Regions from separate parts of the Homo sapiens genome. Here regions 2, 3 and 4 are each linked to region 1. A link means that fine-mapping ties the variant in region 1 to the plasma level of a protein whose gene starts in the linked region. Region 1 holds a variant in brackets. A gene starts in each other region. All regions are shown on their reverse strands.

Region 1 (4,157 bases):
TACCTGCTGTCCAGCCCTAGTTACCCCCAGGAGCTCGTGGTCTCAGGTGAGGGCCCTGACCCTGTCCTGTCCAAGCTCAAAGGCTCAGCTCAGGCCCTGCCCCCAGGAGAGCTCTGGGCTGGGATGGAGTCGCGGTGCGGGGGGGAGGGTTTGAGGGGGGCTCAGCCAGAGGGAGACTCACCCCTCAGAGGGGAGGAGGACAACGGGGGCTCCCCAGGCATGCCCACACTTGGCCCCATCTCCTGGGATGCAAATGGTGAAAGGTGAGCAGAAGAAAGTTTCCAGAGAAGCCACGGGCAGGTGGAGGGACGGGTTTCCTCACTCAGCACCAAAGCGCCTCGCTCCCTTTCTGTGCTTATTCCCAGGACCCTCTGGGGATCCCAGCCTCTCACCTACAGGCTCCACCCCCACACCTGGTGAGTCACTGAGGCCTCTGGGCTCGGAGGGAGCGTGGTCTCCCCCCAGGCAGCCCTGAGTCTCCCCGAGGATCCTATTCCCCTCAAAGACTCAAGCGGGAGCTTCCCTCCAGGGAGCTGGGCAGAGCCAGAGGAGGGGCCACAGGCTCCCCGGGGCTCTGAGGCTGGGCCGGTGAGGGGGCGGGCGTCGAGGCAGAGAGAGATGTTGGGTGTTGGGGCCCAGCCTGGGGGAGGAGCAGCCGGGCTGATGTGGGGAGCAGGGCAGCCCCAGCCCTCACCTCCCCGTCCTGACCCAGCAGGCCCTGAGGACCAGCCCCTCACCCCCACGGGGTTGGATCCCCAGAGTGGTGAGTGAGGGGCTCTGAGTGGGAGGTGGGCGGAGACCAGGGGAGGCAGGGGTGGGTTCTGTCGTAGGTTCAGGCTCCTCTGGAGATGGTGAAGTGCACAAGCCCTTCCCCTGCCTGGGCCTCAGTTTCTCCAAGTGTAAAGGAGAGAGGCCTGCATTGATGGGATTCTTCAGGGGACTGTCCTGTCCCACCGGCAGCAGTGACGGTGACCTGGGGCAGGGGAGGGGAGCAGGGCCGTGGTTTGGGGCATTCAGGCTCTTTCCCTGCAGCTCCGGGGCTCCGCTCAGGTGCAGAGAACAAGGGCTGCGGGTCAGACTCCTGGGTTCACTTCCCAGCTCTGCCGCATCCCACCGTGGGCCCAGGCAGGTCAACTTTCTACTCTGACTCAGTTTCAGCAGCTGTAAACTGGCTCAGTCCCATCCAGCTCACAGAACTGCTGCGAGGCGTAAGCAAAATCATGGGACCTGGCCCTGTACACAGCTCGGCAGGGGCACCGTCCTCCTGCTACCCTCAGCCCTTCCCAGATACACACAGAGCCCCTATCCAGACAGGTTCTGCATGGGAGTATGGGAACTTGGCAGAGTGGGAAACGGACCTGGCTGAGCTGGGAGTGAGAGCAATGCAGGGTCCGTCCTGCACAACCCACTCCCTCTCCCAGGCCCTGCTGTGCTGGGGAAGGGAGGATCCTAAGAAGGACACCAGCCCCAGATGGAGACACTAGGACAGGCCCCTCCTGTCAAATAGGAAACAGGTGTGCACCTGGTGGGGCAGCAGGAGGACAGCTGGGGAAAACACAAAGTCCCTGGTTCCCTTCCCAGACCTGCTTCTTCCAGGCTGAGGAGCCTGGGGCAGGCGATTCCCCTCTCTGAGCCTCAGTTTGCTCCTCTGTGAATTGGGGGGTTGGCAATCCCATGTTGCACAACTGCTGTGAGGGTTGGAGCTCATGAAGGAAAGACCTAGCTCGCGCCTGCACACAGAAGGTGCTCACATCAATGACGTCATCCCCATTCCCAACGTCATCACGCTCAAGGTCTGGGAAGGCACCTGGGGGTTGTGACTGGGGTCTCAGTGGCCTTCGTCCTGCTGCTGTTCCTCCTCCTCTTCCTCCTCCTCCGACATCGGCATCAGAGCAAACACAGGACATCGGGTGAGTAGGGAATGGGGGAACCCGTGGGCCGACCGAGGGTGGGCTCGGGGCACCAGCCAGAGGGAAACCAAACACA[A/G]AGGAAAGTCAGCTTAGAAAAACTGCTCCAGAAATTCCCAGGTGAAAAATCGATCGAGAAAGAAGAGAATAAATGTGAGCATGTGTGGAAGTGCTTGATTCTTCTGATTTTACTTTAAACTTACGACGTATTTAAAGCCTCAGTGCCAGTGGGCCTCCAGGTTTCCTTCTTTCCGCTCGAGTTGTGTGTGCAGGGCAGCTGGTTCGAATTCTCCCAGGCCTGACCCTCTGTCCATCTCTGTCCAGCCCATTTCTACCGTCCTGCAGGGGCTGCGGGGCCAGAGCCCAAGGACCAGGGCCTGCAGAAGAGGTAATTCTGCATGAAGACCCAAGACTCCCATCCACCCGCACAGCCCCCTCACTGCCCCTCACACTCCCGTGTCCTCCCCCAGGGCCAGCCCAGTTGCTGACATCCAGGAGGAAATTCTCAGTGAGTGACTAGAAGCGGAGGGCACCTGGGGTGGGCAAGGGAGCACCAAAGTTTCTGTAGCAATGGGGGCAGGAGCACAGGCTGGGGGGGGTCTGGGGCCAAGGGGGAGGCGGTCTGAACCCACACTGTGGGACCTCAGGGACATCACAGTCCCTCCCTGGATCTCAGCCACCCTAGTGGGAACAGGGCAAGGGCTGGCAGGACGGAGAAGTCTCAGAGAACCTTCCCAGGAGATGAACCCCTTGCTCTGGCCCAGCAGATGCTGCCGTGAAGGACACACAGCCCAAGGACGGGGTGGAGATGGATGCTCCGGTGAGGCCCCGCCCCTGTCCCGGGCACCAAAGGCCTCCTGGTGCCAGATCTAATCCAGCAGGACTTCTCTGTCCTCCTTCCCCCGGCTCTCAGCATCGTCACGGTGGACCCCTCCTTGTCCAGCACGCTGCCTCCCGCCTGCTGCGACCTCACTCTCTTCTGCTGTCCTGGGACCTCGTGGGCCTCCTCCCGGGTCCCCTTCCTGCTCCTCATCCTCTGTTTGGCCGTCTGGTTGTTAGAGCTCTCCCCAGGCCTCAGGAGGATGAGGAATAAATGAACCGACCCGGTCCCCCAGGCTCCCCTTCATTCATTCAACCAGCGAGTGTTCCCAGGGAGCTCACTGTGGATGGGGCTCCCCATGGGAGCTGCAGACACAGCAGGGAGCAAAGCCGCCCCCGCCTCCTGAGCTCACCTCATGGTGGGAGACAAAATGCAAATAAATGCATCGTGTCCAGGAGTGCAACGTGCTGTAAGGAACATAAACCAGGGAAAGGGCAGAGAGTGTGGGGCAGTGGGGCCAGTCTGAATGGAAGGGGAGGGCTGTCTGCTCAGCTGTCATCTGAGAAGCCTGGACAGAGTGGGGCACACGATCCTCTGATGGACGAGCCCCTGCAGGCAGAGGAAACAGCCGTGCAAAGGCCCCGAGGCAGCAGCGAGCTCTTGCGGGAAGGCCCGTGAGGCTGCAGCCAAATGGGCAAGGTCAGAGTGAGGAGCAGAGGCCAGAACCACAGGGAGGGAGCGGCCAGACCCTCCACGGCCTTAGGGCGTCCCTGAGATTCCATCAGGAAAGGGATGTAATCGGATCACCCCGGGAACAGTGAGGAAAATTGACTCCAGGAGGTCAGGGGGACTCAAGGACACCCCCCACCACTGTCTCTCTCCAGCAGAGCCCACACGATGAAGACCCCCAGGCAGTGACGTATGCCCCGGTGAAACACTCCAGACCTAGGAGAGAAATGGCCTCTCCTCCTTCCCCACTGTCTGGGGAATTCCTGGACACAAAGGACAGACAGGCAGAAGAGGACAGACAGATGGACACTGAGAGAGTCCTTTCCTCTCCAGGCCCCCAGGCCTCCCCCACCCCCACCACGTTCCTTCCCTCTCACTCTCCCCCGCTGCAGGCTGCTGCATCTGAAGCCCCCCAGGATGTGACCTACGCCCAGCTGCACAGCTTGACCCTCAGACGGGAGGCAACTGAGCCTCCTCCATCCCAGGAAAGGGAACCTCCAGCTGAACCCAGCATCTACGCCCCCCTGGCCATCCACTAGCCCACGGGGGACCCAGATCTCATACTCAACAGAAGGAGACTCAGAGACTCCAGAAGGCACAGGAGCTGCCCCCAGTGGACACCAATGAACCCCAGCCAGCCTGGACCCCTAACAAAGACCACCAGGACATCCTGGGAACTCTGGGACTCACTAGATTCTGCA
Region 2 (4,143 bases), not on the chromosome of region 1:
ATCAGGAGTTCAAGACCAGCCTGGCTAACATGGCGAAACCGTCTCTGCTAAAAATACAAAAATTAGCTGAGGCCGGGCGCGGTGGCTCACGCCTGTAATCCCAGCACTTTGGGAGGCCAAGGCGGGCGGATCACGAGATCAGGAGATCGAGACAATCCTGGCTGACACCGTGAAACCCCATCTCTACTAAAAATACAAAAAATTAGCTGTAGTCCCAGCTACTCGGGAGGCTGAGGCAGGAGAATGGCGTGAACCCGGGAGGCGGAGCTTGCAGTGAGCCTAGATCGCGCCACTGCACTCCAGCCTGGGCGACAGAGTGAGACTCCATCTCAAAAAAAAAAAAAAAAAATTAGCTGGGCGTGATGGCACAGGCCTGTAATCCCAGCTACTTGGGAGGCTGAGGCACAAGAATCACTTAAACCCGGGAGGCAGAGGTTGCAGTGAGCTGAGATTGCACCACTGCACTCCAGCCCGGGCCACAGAGCGAGACTCCATCTCAAAACAAAACAAAACAAAAAAAAGGACCTCACAGGGAGTCTCTCTACCTCTCAAAGGGCTGAGGTGTCCTCTCTGAGCTCAGGGACAGGAGGCAGTGCAGAGAGAGACTCCTGCTTCTCCTAGCTTCCAGCTCTGGTTCCACGTTGGAAGAAGGGGGCTTGGGAAGAAGTCTGGGAAAGGGAACCCGAGAGAAAGGAGAGGATATGGCACAGAACTGGGGGGCAAAGGCCAAAGGGTTGGGGTCTTCGGAGGCGAGCCTATCCAATGGGCCTTGTGTTACCCTTGGCCGTGTGCAGGTCCACCTCCACCGTGGGGTTGCCCCTGGAGTCCAAGATTTCCCGGGCAAAGATTTTCTGCATGGCCATGGCTGCAGGACAGGAGGTGTGAGTGAGTGTAGACAGTTGATCTCTTAAGGAACCAGAAATCCCTTGCCCTTTAAGATTCTTCCCCACTCCAAGAAGGCAGGTGCTGGAGCTAAAAATACCCTACAAAAAGGTCACAGACCAAAGAGGCAGGCGCAGCCCCCTCCCCCACTCAGAACAGCTCTTATTCCACCCTCCCATCCTAAGAATCCAGGGGCCTCTTATCTATAGCTCCTGGGATGCCACCGCTCACCAAGCCCCCACCTCCCCCAAGCCTCCACTTAGGCCTTCTCCTTCCACCCCTCTGGTCAAGCAGTCTGTTCTCCATGGCTGGTGGCCTTCAAATCCTTTCTGGTTCTCATTTTCCTGCTCCGAAATCTCCTTGGGCCCCCAATTCCCTATCAGGTTCCAGCTCTAGCTGCCCTTTTCTATCCATCCCTGCTGCCCTCCTCACAGCCTCCTTTCCCTAGATCCTTCGGTGTTCCCAGAGTTTGTCCCATCTGCTTGCTCCAGCCGCCCCTTCCCCCAGCTTTTTCAAGCATCTCCAGTCCCAGGAGGAAAAAAAGCAGAAATGTCCCCCACTTCCTCCAAGCCAATACCATGCTCACCCTTTACTACCTCCACCCCCAGGGCTGGAAGATTCACCCGACCTGGGATGTCTTCGCTGGAGGTTTGGATGGAGCTCCGAGTCTAGGTGGCAGCTGGGACAGTGTCAGCTCACCCCCTCTCAGGCTGCGCATTTATCCCTGAGCCACTCGGTCCCCAGCCAGCCCCGCCTCTCTTTCTCTCCATCCTCCCCCCTTCACACTGGGCTGGCAGCCAAGTGCCCACTACAGCCTGAAGCAGAAGCCTCTGGCCCTGGGCACCTGCCCCCTTACCAAAGGTCAACTACTATCCCCCACTTTCTGTCTCCCAATAACAGTCCCTGTTCTAATTCCACCCTTTGGGAGGAGCAAGGGAGGGGCTACAGATGAGGGGTCTCCCCCCACCCCAGGATTACATTCCCCTTTTGCAAACGTCAAGAGGAATGAGTGACCTTTAGGAAAGGCCAGGGGTAACCTGAGCCCTGCAAGGCTGGGGAGGGGGCCTGGAAGAGGGGCTGCAAGATTGACGTCCACACATGCTCAGATCGCTGGGCGGGCCTCTGTCCTCAGTGGGGGAAAGGACGGGACCCCCCACCCCAGAAGGCGAGAGGGTCTCACCTCTTAGGGTCCTCATAACGGCCATTCTCGGCGCCGCCCCATCCTACCCTCTCCAGGCCAGCCAGCGCCGGGATGAGTTAGGGGACAGGAAACGAATTTAGACAGGCCCTTTCGGCTGGCAAGGCGCCCGACTGATAACGCTGGGACAGCACTTGTCGCCCGGCGTGGGGACTGTCGGTCAGAGCCCCTTTCCCCATCGACTGTGGGCGCTCAGCGCACGGCCCCAGCCCATCAATGAATGGGGCTGAATCAACAGTGAACAAAAATGAATGGACCGAGGACGGGTGGCCTTTTGTGAGCTTCTGCACGCCTGGGGCTCTTCCGGCGCCCCACTTGTAGCACTGCGGGGAGGTAGGTCTCTGCCCTCGGTAGAGATCTCCACTTTGCCGGCTCTGGGGCCAGTGCGGGGTCTGCCCCGAGCTCCTCTGCAGCCATACCAGCCGACCGGCGGGGGACACACGGCGCCTCGGCCCGACTCGGAGGCCCTTCCCGTCGGCGCCGGGGCAGCGCGCGCCCGGTGACTCACCCCCGCCGCCCTCTCCCCACCCCTGCTCCCCGCCCCGCCGGCCCGCGCGGCCTCCCAGCCCCCACCCCAGGCCACCTGCCCCGCCACCCGTCCAGTCTCCCCTCTCGCCCCGCCCCCTCATCTCAGGCCGCTCCTCCCGGGATTTTTCCACCCTGGGGTAGGGGTGCGGTGGGCCAGGGGTCAGGAGATGGCGGGCGGGGAGCGCCGCCACGTGCCCGGGTGCGGCCCCGCCCGAGCCCGCCAGTGACTCAGCCGCGCGGCTGTCGAGGAACACGGACTCGAGGGGCGTCGGGGACTGTGGGATTCGGCGTGGACGCCAGGGATGCGCGCCGCGCTCGGGAGGAGAGAGAAAACCAACCCCCTTTCCGCCCGGGCCGCGCTCGGTGACCCCTTGCCCCTAGCCCAGGCTCCGGAAGCCGCCCAGCCCTCGGCGGCGGGTCGGAGGAGGCGGTTTCACCGCGGCCGCCGCACGGCCGTCCCGCCCGTCCCGCCCTCCCCAGGTGGCTGTGAGCGCACATCTGACTGCGAAGAAACCCAAAGGGCCCGAAGTGGGACTTTCCCCTTCTTGAAAAAGTTGCCACTCTTGCAACTTGAGTATTCTTCCGCCTCGAAAAATAGCCCCGCCTGTTAAGCCCCGCGGGTGTCCGCGCTCTGTGACCTCTGCAGACACAGGCCAAGGGGCACGGCCGGTGATCCAGACATTGCCTGCCTGGGGCGGGCGGGGCTGGGATGTGGGGTGAGGCCCTGGGCTAGAGCCGATCCAGAGAAGGGACAATCCTCTAGACTGAGAATGGGCCCTGGTGAACCCAACCTGCACGACCCGAGAAGACGCTGGGGACAGAAGTGGCCCCGGTGGGTGCCTTCAGCTATGAGAGCGACTAGAGGATTTGGCCAAACTCTTCTTTGCTTTCTTATTACTTGAATAAGTAAAATCAAGGGTGGTGAGGCGGCAGCGCGCACGGCTTCGCCCCCGCCCCTTCCGCCAGGCGGGAGACACGTCCCCAGCCCGCCTTCCTTTCCCGCAGGGTCCACACGGGTCGGGCCGGGCGCGCTCCCGTGCAGCCGGCTCCGGCCCCGACCGCCCCATGCACTCCCGGCCCCGGCGCAGGCGCAGGCGCGGGCACACGCGCCGCCGCCCGCCGGTCCTTCCCTTCGGCGGAGGTGGGGGAAGGAGGAGTCATCCCGTTTAACCCTGGGCTCCCCGAACTCTCCTTAATTTGCTAAATTTGCAGCTTGCTAATTCCTCCTGCTTTCTCCTTCCTTCCTTCTTCTGGCTCACTCCCTGCCCCGATACCAAAGTCTGGTTTATATTCAGTGCAAATTGGAGCAAACCCTACCCTTCACCTCTCTCCCGCCACCCCCCATCCTTCTGCATTGCTTTCCATCGAACTCTGCAAATTTTGCAATAGGGGGAGGGATTTTTAAAATTGCATTTGCAAAGTTCGGTGTCTGGGCTGGCGAGTGGGGGAGGGAGGGAATGGGGAGTAGGCCCCGCCCCTACCGTCCTTTGCAAATAAAAATCTAGCGGGGCGGGGGGGGGGAGGAGCAGGAAGTG
Region 3 (4,156 bases), not on the chromosome of region 1:
TGGCCTGGGAGGGGGACGTGTTGGGATTCACAGGTGGCCATGTCTGCCCCTCCTGCTCCACACAGGTGTTCTCACAGCTCCTCTTAACTTGATCCTCTCCAATAGACAGGGCGTCCAGCTGCTGCCATTGCAATGGCTGGCACTCCCACTCCCTCACCCTCACAGGAGTCTGTGCTTTGGACAGTCAATACCCACTTTGGTGACTGAGCATCTATCCCTCCCCTTTCACCATGCTGACAGCCAAGTGGCCCGTCCTTTGTGCCTTTCTCATCTGCCTCCCTAGCCAGGCTTAGCAGCCACCACAAAGAATATTAAGAGATGGTTTCATAGAACTCTTAGATGCCTGCCAGCTACTGTTGATGCTGTAACCAGCTCTGCAACTGGTTCCTGTTCTCTGCCTGCCTGGTGCCTCTAGGCATCCTGGCCATTGTCCCATCCTGAAGATCTCTGAAGACCAGGGCAGAAGACTCCAGTAGAGCAAGAGAGACTGGGGAGATAGGTGAGGCAGATGGAAGGGAGGGGAATGGGTGGTGGGTGGTGGGGAGAAACCATCATCCTCATCTTCAGCAGCCAATCCAGAGCCTGGCTTCCCAACCACTTGAATGCTCAGAGGCCAGCTTCCCCTTGCTCTAAATGTTCCCCTTGCTCTAAAAGCTGGGTGTCTGGGACACCTCTAGAGAGCCCAGGAAGAATTCCACTACCTTTGCTAGGTTTCCTACTATGGCGTGAGAATGGATTTGGGGATGAGAATGACACTATCAGTTCAAACCATCTGCAGTCAGCTCAGGCACACAGCTTTTTCTGTGCAAAATTCCTGCAGAGAGCATTCTAGGGCCTGGCCCAGCTGTCGCAGCCCAGGTGCCCACCACATTGCAAGAGAGGTCTGTATCTTGCGAAATAGAGATTTTTCAGCCACATGAATAGCTGCAGTGGGAGCCTGACAGTTCCATGCGTCAGCCCACACGGCAGCAAGTCTAGTCACTACACACCTACTGCTGAGCCGCCTGTGGGAAAATCTTCCCTGGCCACCTGCCACTCCTAACCCCTCTGAGCTATTTGGCAACAGAGACACAGGTGTGAACAGAAGTCATCATCATAAAACTTAGTCAATCTCATATAAGTAATTACCTCAAAAAACAACCCCAAAGTCTCATTAGCCAGATAGTAAAATAGAAAGAAAACTAAGAGACAGATCCAAGAGATATAGGATTTTATTTGGAGATGAACTTGTGTTATAGCAAAAGGGTACGAGTTTTACGTTCAGAGTTCCAGCTCCCCTGCTTCCCAGCTAAGTGGCCTTGAGCGCGTTCCTTAACATTCTAAGGCTGATTTTTTTCATGTTTAAGTGGAAGAAAATAACACCCCTGCCTGGCAAAGTTGTTGTGTGATCAAAAAGATAATGTACATGAAAGCTCTTTGCAAATGGTAAAGTATTATGCAGTAATGAGTTATTATAATTCAGTCTTCTAACAGGGCACCATGGTATCCCTTTTATCTCTCCTACCACCCAAATGTCCTCTCCCCTGCAAACCTCAAAGTATTCTGCATGGAGCGTGTTGAGCACGTGTGTGTGTGCACACACACACGCGCACACACACACGGTGTTCAGGCATGTGTCTCTGCATGTCATTTTCATAGCTGTGTCTAGGCAAGACCTGTGAAATCTCCACGTCCCAGAAGCCAGTAAGAAAGCACCAGCTCAGAAGAGGGTGTAGCTCAGGGGTAGAGCATTAAACTGCAGATCAAGAGAAGGCACCAGCTCTGCAAAGCCTTCGCCATTAACAAAGAAGTGAAACCAACAAGCTTGAGACCCAGGGTTTCCCTTTATGCATGGCGGAAATTGGAAACAAACCATTTCTGGTAACCAGTAACTCTTAGTAATTAATAACGTAGCTCTTAGTAACCAGTAACTCTTAGTAATTAATAAGGTAGGAGTAAGAAAGTAGATGCCTGGAACTGACCTTATAAGTAAGAACTAGGCAGAAAAAGAACTGGCAGGAGATGAGGGAGCTGGGGAGAGACTGCAATGATCATCTAGTCCTGATTTCACAGATGAAATGGGGTCTCAGAGAAGAGAGTGGACTTGTCCAGGATGACACAGGGGCAAAGCTGGAACAAGAGCCCAGGTCTTCTTCCTCCATGTGAGCTATTATCAGCCATTCATTTTCAGTTCCATTTGGCTCCCATATTTCTGAAATAACCAAATAATAAGTCCAAAAGGAACTTACCCAAAAAATTTTTCTTGGCCACAGATGCTGGACCCAATAAGGGCCCCAATGAACAGTATCCACCTCATGTCCCCGGGGAGTCAGTCATACAGTGGCTGAGTCAAGCTGTATTTATAAAGAGTCTGAGAGTGACTCAAGTCCTCAAAAATGCTAATGTGATTCCCAAGCACCCTTGCAACTCTGACTGTGACAGGCAGGCCCTACCAATGCCTCTCCCATTCCTTTCAAGTGATAAAGGTTGAGCATCTCAATTTACAAGGTCAGGAACTTGCTCCAGGAGCTGAAAAAGTCTGTGCCAAGGGTACCATATTGCTCATCACTTGGCATTTAAATAGTGTTTTTTCAGTGAATAAGCTAATTCCACAGTGTTGGATGGAATTTATCCTGATAGGAGAGGTCAGATTATAAACCTGGCATAGAATTACCTCTAGAATAATAATAAAAAAGTTAAGACTATCAAAGCAAGACTGAGCTGGCTCCAAGACCACATGCTTGACAAGCCCTGCCAGAGAATTTCACCAGGGCAGGTCAGGATGAGGAAAGAGGTTTGGGGCCTCTTTTATGTATCTGAAGCCTAATTCTTCTGACTCCACTAAGGAAATAGAAATGTATCAGGCAAATGATATAGAAAGGATGTTTTAGTCTGAATAAATTATCAGTGTTCCTTGGGGTCTGATCTATGGGGAAGGCTTAATGGTTTTATCAATAATAAGATTTTCAGCCGGGCGAGGTGGCTCATGCCTGTAATCCTAGCACTTTGGGAGGCCGAGGTGGGCGGATCACGAGGTCAGGAGATTGAGACCATCCTGGCTATCACAGTGAAACCTCGTCTCTACTAAAAATACAAAAAATTAGCCGGGCGTGGTGGCGGACGCCTGTAGTCCCAGCTACTCAGGAGAATGGCGTGAACCTGGGAGGCGGAGCTTGCAGTGAGCCGAGATCGCACCACTGCACTCCAGCCTGGGCGACAGAGTGAGACTCCATCTCAAATAAATAAATAAATAAATAATAAGATTTTCTTATACTTCCTAGACTGTGGGTCTGGTGTCCTTTCCGCCAAGTCACAGCTGAATAAATGGAAGACACTCATATCTCCATAACGCCTTCAGGGGCTCTGGGACCTTTGAGTCTGTCCTGGGAGCCCCAGTTCCCACAGCCTTTCCCATCCCACCCTCCCTACGGTCTACATGCTTTCCACACCCACTCAAAGGGAGTGGACACAACCAAGGGTCATAGTTGAGAGAGTTAAAGAAAAACTATCCTGACCTGTGTTAAAATGTAAGACCTAATTCAAGATTATTATGATTAGGACCATGGCTATTTCAGTAGGAAAGACTTACTGTGCTTAACACTGAATACGGCAAAGAAAACAGAGAGGATCAGTGGGATTACTAAGAGAAGACATCAAGGTAGGGGGATTCTTGCTAAAAGCAGGCCAAGGACTTATACATCAAAGTCCCCATCAAAGGTGGGGATGAGGAACTTGATCAGATATCAAGGTGGGAGGGATGACTTCGCAGGATCTTTGCTCAGGCTGGCTTAGCCAGGGCTCAAGAACCAGCCTAATCAAAAGGAGGGTGCAGAATCTCAAGTGTGGTCCCAGAGAGAGCCTTTGTTAGGAGCTGTGGAGCTAGGGGCCATCATCTCCTCTTGCTCCCTCAGGGTCCTTTTGTCCTCTCAACACTTCAACTGAATTCCTACACCCACCCTGTCCACCACAAAGCGTGGGCTCAGCGTCACTGAGATCGATGTCAGCTTTGAAGTCAGCAACAAGAACAACTGAGACCCAAATCTGTAAGAGATGTGAAGTGGGAGAATCAAGGACCAAGCATTCTAGGCAAGCTGAAATTTAGTTCCTACCTTTTCTCCCAGGGAAAATCATCCACATGAAGAAAACCTAAATCCCTAATGGGAGTCAATATCTAAAG
Region 4 (4,130 bases), not on the chromosome of region 1:
GGGGGTCTTAGTCTGTGGCTCCTCCATGGGGCCTCACTGAGAGGACCCTCAGTGAGAAACTTAGTCTTGGGAGTCTGAGAACCCACAGAGGGATTTCAATCCAGGACTCTTCTCTGGGGGTCTCAACCTGGATCCCCCTCTGTGTGTGGGGCCTCAGCCTGGGGTTCTCTGAGGGATCTTGGTCTGTAGCATCCTTTGTGGGATCTCATTCCAAGGGGCCTCTGTGTGTGTCTCAGATTGGGCCTCTCAGTGTTGAGCTCCCTTGATTGGTTGCCTCCCTCTTCCCCCCTCAGCATACACACTCCTGATTAGACATGGGTATGGTGGCAGCAGCCCCCAGTATTGAGAGGACTAGGACCCTGGGACCCCTGCCGAACGAGATCTGTCCAGGCAGCTCCTCTCCCTGACCAAGTGGGGGCGCTCGTGTGGCTGGCAGGGAGCCCGGGTCCAGACCTGAGGGCTCAGGGCAAGCGGCCTGATTGGGCTGTCTCTGGTCTTCAGAATCGACCACGGAAATTTGACACCTCCGGGCTTGGAAGCAGCTCTCTCCTCCTTCCCCGCTGCTTATAAACCTCAGCCCTGAGGCTCCAGCTCACTCTACCCCATCTCCTTGCCGGGTGAGTCTCATGGCTGACCCTGGAGGGAGGCTGGAGATCATTTTTTCTTCCTGGGCTCCCAGGTCCCTCCCCCAGAGCCAGCTCAGACAGGAATTCAGGAAGGAGCTTTGGATGATCGAGCAACAGCGCGTGCAGGAGTGTGTGACGGGGTGGACAGAAAAGAGAATGCCTCTTCCAGCCCCACCCGCCGCACCCCAGGGGGTTGTGAGTGCCTGTACTAAACCCGTCCTGGAGCAGGGAGTCAGAGACGCCCCGTTCCAGGACCCTTGTCACCGGGAGACAGGAGCGGGGAGGATCTGTGGGGTCCTGGGTTCAGCACTCTGCCCTGCTGCCGCTGAGGAGAGGTAAGGGTGGAGCGGGGCAGAGAAAATGGGTCTGTTCAGACGGAGCCAGCTCTGACCACAGGGGACATTTGCCAGACCCTGTGCTTCTCTGCTGGGAGGAGCGGTTAGAGTGTGTGTGGGCGGATGCGAGTGGCCGGAGACCAGGGCCCAACATAAACAAGCTTTGGAGACAAACAACCTTATGACCTGTGAGTCTGGGTGAGACAAGAAGGGATTCTTGAGACAGACACGCCACAGAGGGGCCACCAGACTTGAAGGACTCCAAGAAGGACCTTCAACTGAAGACCTCCTCTCAAGTAGAGGGGTCTCCAGATCGAGGGATCACCACAGAGGGGTCCCTAAGCCACAGACATTTAAAAAGGATCCCGGATTGTGAGACCTACAGAAGAGGGGGTTTCTGGAGCTGAATCTCCTGCCCCCACCAAAACTGAGATGCCGTTGCCTGGTCTGCTGCCCCAAGCTCAACCCCTGTCCTCTCCCTCTTTCCCCATATGCCCCCTCCAGGCTGAGACTGATGTGATAACACCAAGGCAGGGACCTTCTGAACCATTCCTGCATCTTGGGGCTCCCTGACTCTCCCTCTCTGCTCCTTCTCTCTTCCACAGGTCAGCCCTGACAAAGGTCAGCTAGCCCCTTGAGGACATCAGCTTTGGCCTCAGGGTCCTAATGGCAGCAGAACCACTGACAGAGCTAGAGGAGTCCATTGAGACCGTGGTCACCACCTTCTTCACCTTTGCAAGGCAGGAGGGCCGGAAGGATAGCCTCAGCGTCAACGAGTTCAAAGAGCTGGTTACCCAGCAGTTGCCCCATCTGCTCAAGGTAGGCAGAAGTCTGGGACTGAGATTTTGTGAGATGATGATTATGGGACACTGTGTTTAGGACGTGATGGTGCCGAGTACGGTGAGGTGACCACAAGAAAGGGTGTGGGTGGCTGCATGTGTCAATGGTTGCAGGTTTTCTTTTGTTTTTTCGAGACAAAGTCTCACTCTGTTGCCCAGGCCGGAGTGCAGTGGTGTGATCTTGGCTCACTGCAACCTCCATCTCCGGGGTTCAAGTGATTCTCCTGCCTCAGCCTCCTGAGTAGCTGGGATTACAGGTGTGTGCCACCACGCCGAGCCTATTTCTGTATTTTTAGTAGAGACAGGGTTTCACCAGGTTGGCCAGGCTGGTCTCGAACTCCTGACCTCAGGTGATCCACCCGCCTCGGCCTCCCAAAGTGCTGTGGTTACAGGCGCAAGCCACTGCGCCTGACCCGGTTGTGAGTTTTCTTGCCTGGTGTGTACATGTGTGTGTTTGTGTGTCCATGCATATAATTAGGTAAGCAAAGATACTATGTGCCAGTGGGAGTATGGTCTTGTGTCAGAAGATGCTGTTGGGTTCTTGTGTATGCTCTGTGCCTTTCTGGTCTAATTTCCCCAAGACAGGACTGGACCCAGAGCTGGCTTCCAGGAGATTCACAGACTGTCAGAGCTGGAAGGAGGCCAAGAGAAAACACAGTCCGCATTCCTCACTTCACATATATGGAAACTGAGGCCTAGCAGTGGAAAGGGGCTTATCAAAAATGAAAACACAGCCAAATTCATGGAGTCATAGACCTCAGTGTAGGGGGTCTGTGGGTGCATCTGTGAAGACTCCCTACCCGCTATGGGCATCCCCTTACTAGGGTGTAAGAGTCATTCCTTCTCTCGCACTCACAGGCTGGAGTCAGGTCTTAAATTTCATCGACTCTGGCCTCGAAGAGGCCTGGTCATTCTGGCTGTTGACAGTTTGTTTTACATCCTTTCTGAAAATCCACAGGCACGTTGAAGTGTGTGAATATGGACTCCTTGAACACAGTGAGTCTCTGAAACTCATGGTCTTTCATCTGCAAAATCCCCTACAACTTCCAACTTCTCAGACTTTTTTTTGAGACAGGGTTTCTCACTCTGTTGCCCAGGCCACTGTGCGATCACAGCTCATTGCATCCTTGACCTTCCGGGCTCAGGCAATCCTCCTGCCCCAGCCTCACAAGTAGCTGGGACCACAGGCGCATGCCACACTGCCTGGCTAATTTTTTCTTTTTTTGTGACAGAGTCTCACTCTGTCACCGAGGCTGGAGTGCAATGGTGCGATCTTGGCTCACTGCAACCTCTGCCTCCTGGGTTCAAGTGGTTCTCTTACCTCAGCCTCATGAGTAGCTGGGATTACAGGCAACCGCCACCATGCCTGGATAATTTTTGTATTTTTAGTAGAGACGGGGTTTCACTATGTTGGCCAGGCTGGTTTCGAACTCCTGATCTCAGGTGATCCACCTGCCTCGGCCTCTCAAAGTGCTGGAATTACAGGCGTGAGCCACCGCGCCTGGCCTAATTTTTAAGTTACTTGTAGAGATGTGGTCTCTCTGTGTTTCCCAAGCTGGTCTCAAACTCTAGGCCTCAAGTGATCCTCCTGCATTGGCCTTCCAAAGTGTTGGGATTACAGTCATGAGCCACTGTGCCCAGCCAGACGTTTCCTTTTTCATCTTTTTTACTGGAAACTTCAGGTTCTCTCCTGAAGGGACAGCATTCCTTATATCCTTGTCAAGCAGTGATTGTGGTTTTTTTTTTTTTTTTCCTAAATTCAACTTCCTCTGGGCCTGGAAATGGAGGAAGTGACCTCTCTGCTTTCCATTATCTCTAGATTTTAGTTTCTTCTTCTTTCTAAGACTTCCCAGCGCCTTGGAAGATCATCTGCCACCTGCCATTCTTCTTATTGCGCTCCTTACAGCTCTTCAGCTCCTGGCTCACTGTTTTCTTCTCATCACTGCTTCTGTTGTTATTCTCAGTGGCTTCAGCATCCGCACAGACAATTCATCCAACATCTGGGCCTTTCAATTTTCTCAACTCCTCATTTCCAAAAAGATTTGTCTTCTTACATCTCAGCATCCCACTCCTCTGTTCATGCTTTAGACTGTGTCATTAACAAAATAACGCACAACTTCCAAAATCTTGATTTCAAGTTTCCCTTTATCTGCTGACCTCCTCCTGTCATTCCAGTTCTGTTCCCCTCTCTAGCTTCTCCACTTCAGCACTTCCCTGACTCCTCAGGTACCTTCAGTCTCTCGACCCTCTCACTTTTGCATCTTCCATCAACATCCCTCGGGTCCTCATTGCCCTTCCTCCTCACCTCAGGTTCTAAGGCTTCTAATTGT

Direction of the effects. Alleles are on the strand shown, and positions count from the first base shown. The strength of an association depends on the size of the effect and on how common the allele is.
For the plasma level of the protein whose gene starts at base 1,574 in region 2, G is the high allele of the variant in region 1 and A is the other (moderate association).
As copies of A replace G in region 1, the plasma level of the protein whose gene starts at base 2,316 in region 3 goes down (strong association).
For the plasma level of the protein whose gene starts at base 595 in region 4, allele G in region 1 goes with a higher level than allele A (strong association).

The links. PIP is the posterior inclusion probability: the model's chance that the variant is causal. The UK Biobank Pharma Proteomics Project read protein levels with antibody pairs (Olink). The fine-mapping took linkage between variants from a reference panel, not from the people measured, so its PIPs are less certain.
Region 2: ENO3 starts here. The variant in region 1 is fine-mapped to the plasma level of the ENO3 protein (UK Biobank, PIP above 0.99).
Region 3: it holds the start of CPA4, and the variant in region 1 is fine-mapped to the plasma level of the CPA4 protein (UK Biobank, PIP above 0.99).
Region 4: it holds the start of S100A13, and the variant in region 1 is fine-mapped to the plasma level of the S100A13 protein (UK Biobank, PIP above 0.99).

The regions. Positions count from the first base shown.
Region 1 is chr19:54,250,624-54,254,780 of GRCh38, reverse strand. LILRB5 (leukocyte immunoglobulin like receptor B5) reads left to right here. Exons shown (of 13, transcript NM_001081442.3): 6 at 1-46; 7 at 366-416; 8 at 713-763; 9 at 1,794-1,910; 10 at 2,232-2,295; 11 at 2,378-2,415; 12 at 2,675-2,727; 13 at 3,849-4,157. The coding sequence ends at 3,995. Among named protein-coding and RNA genes, the nearest start is that of LILRB5, 4.6 kb to the left of the region's middle. RefSeq lists an enhancer at 2,670-3,287. The variant A/G (reference allele first, on the strand shown) is at 1,987.
Region 2 is chr17:4,948,550-4,952,692 of GRCh38, reverse strand. It overlaps ENO3 (enolase 3), which reads right to left and starts at 1,574. Exons shown (of 12, transcript NM_053013.4): 1 at 1,511-1,574; 2 at 779-865. The coding sequence starts at 863. RefSeq lists enhancers at 308-1,042, 3,204-3,373 and silencers at 2,424-2,653, 2,704-3,113, 3,574-3,823, 3,954-4,143.
Region 3 is chr7:130,291,321-130,295,476 of GRCh38, reverse strand. CPA4 (carboxypeptidase A4) reads right to left here and starts at 2,316. Exons shown (of 11, transcript NM_016352.4): 1 at 2,229-2,316. The coding sequence starts at 2,296. RefSeq lists an enhancer at 1,822-1,911.
Region 4 is chr1:153,623,970-153,628,099 of GRCh38, reverse strand. It overlaps S100A13 (S100 calcium binding protein A13), which reads left to right and starts at 595. Exons shown (of 3, transcript NM_001024211.2): 1 at 595-617; 2 at 1,567-1,780. The coding sequence starts at 1,628. RefSeq lists an enhancer at 348-1,173.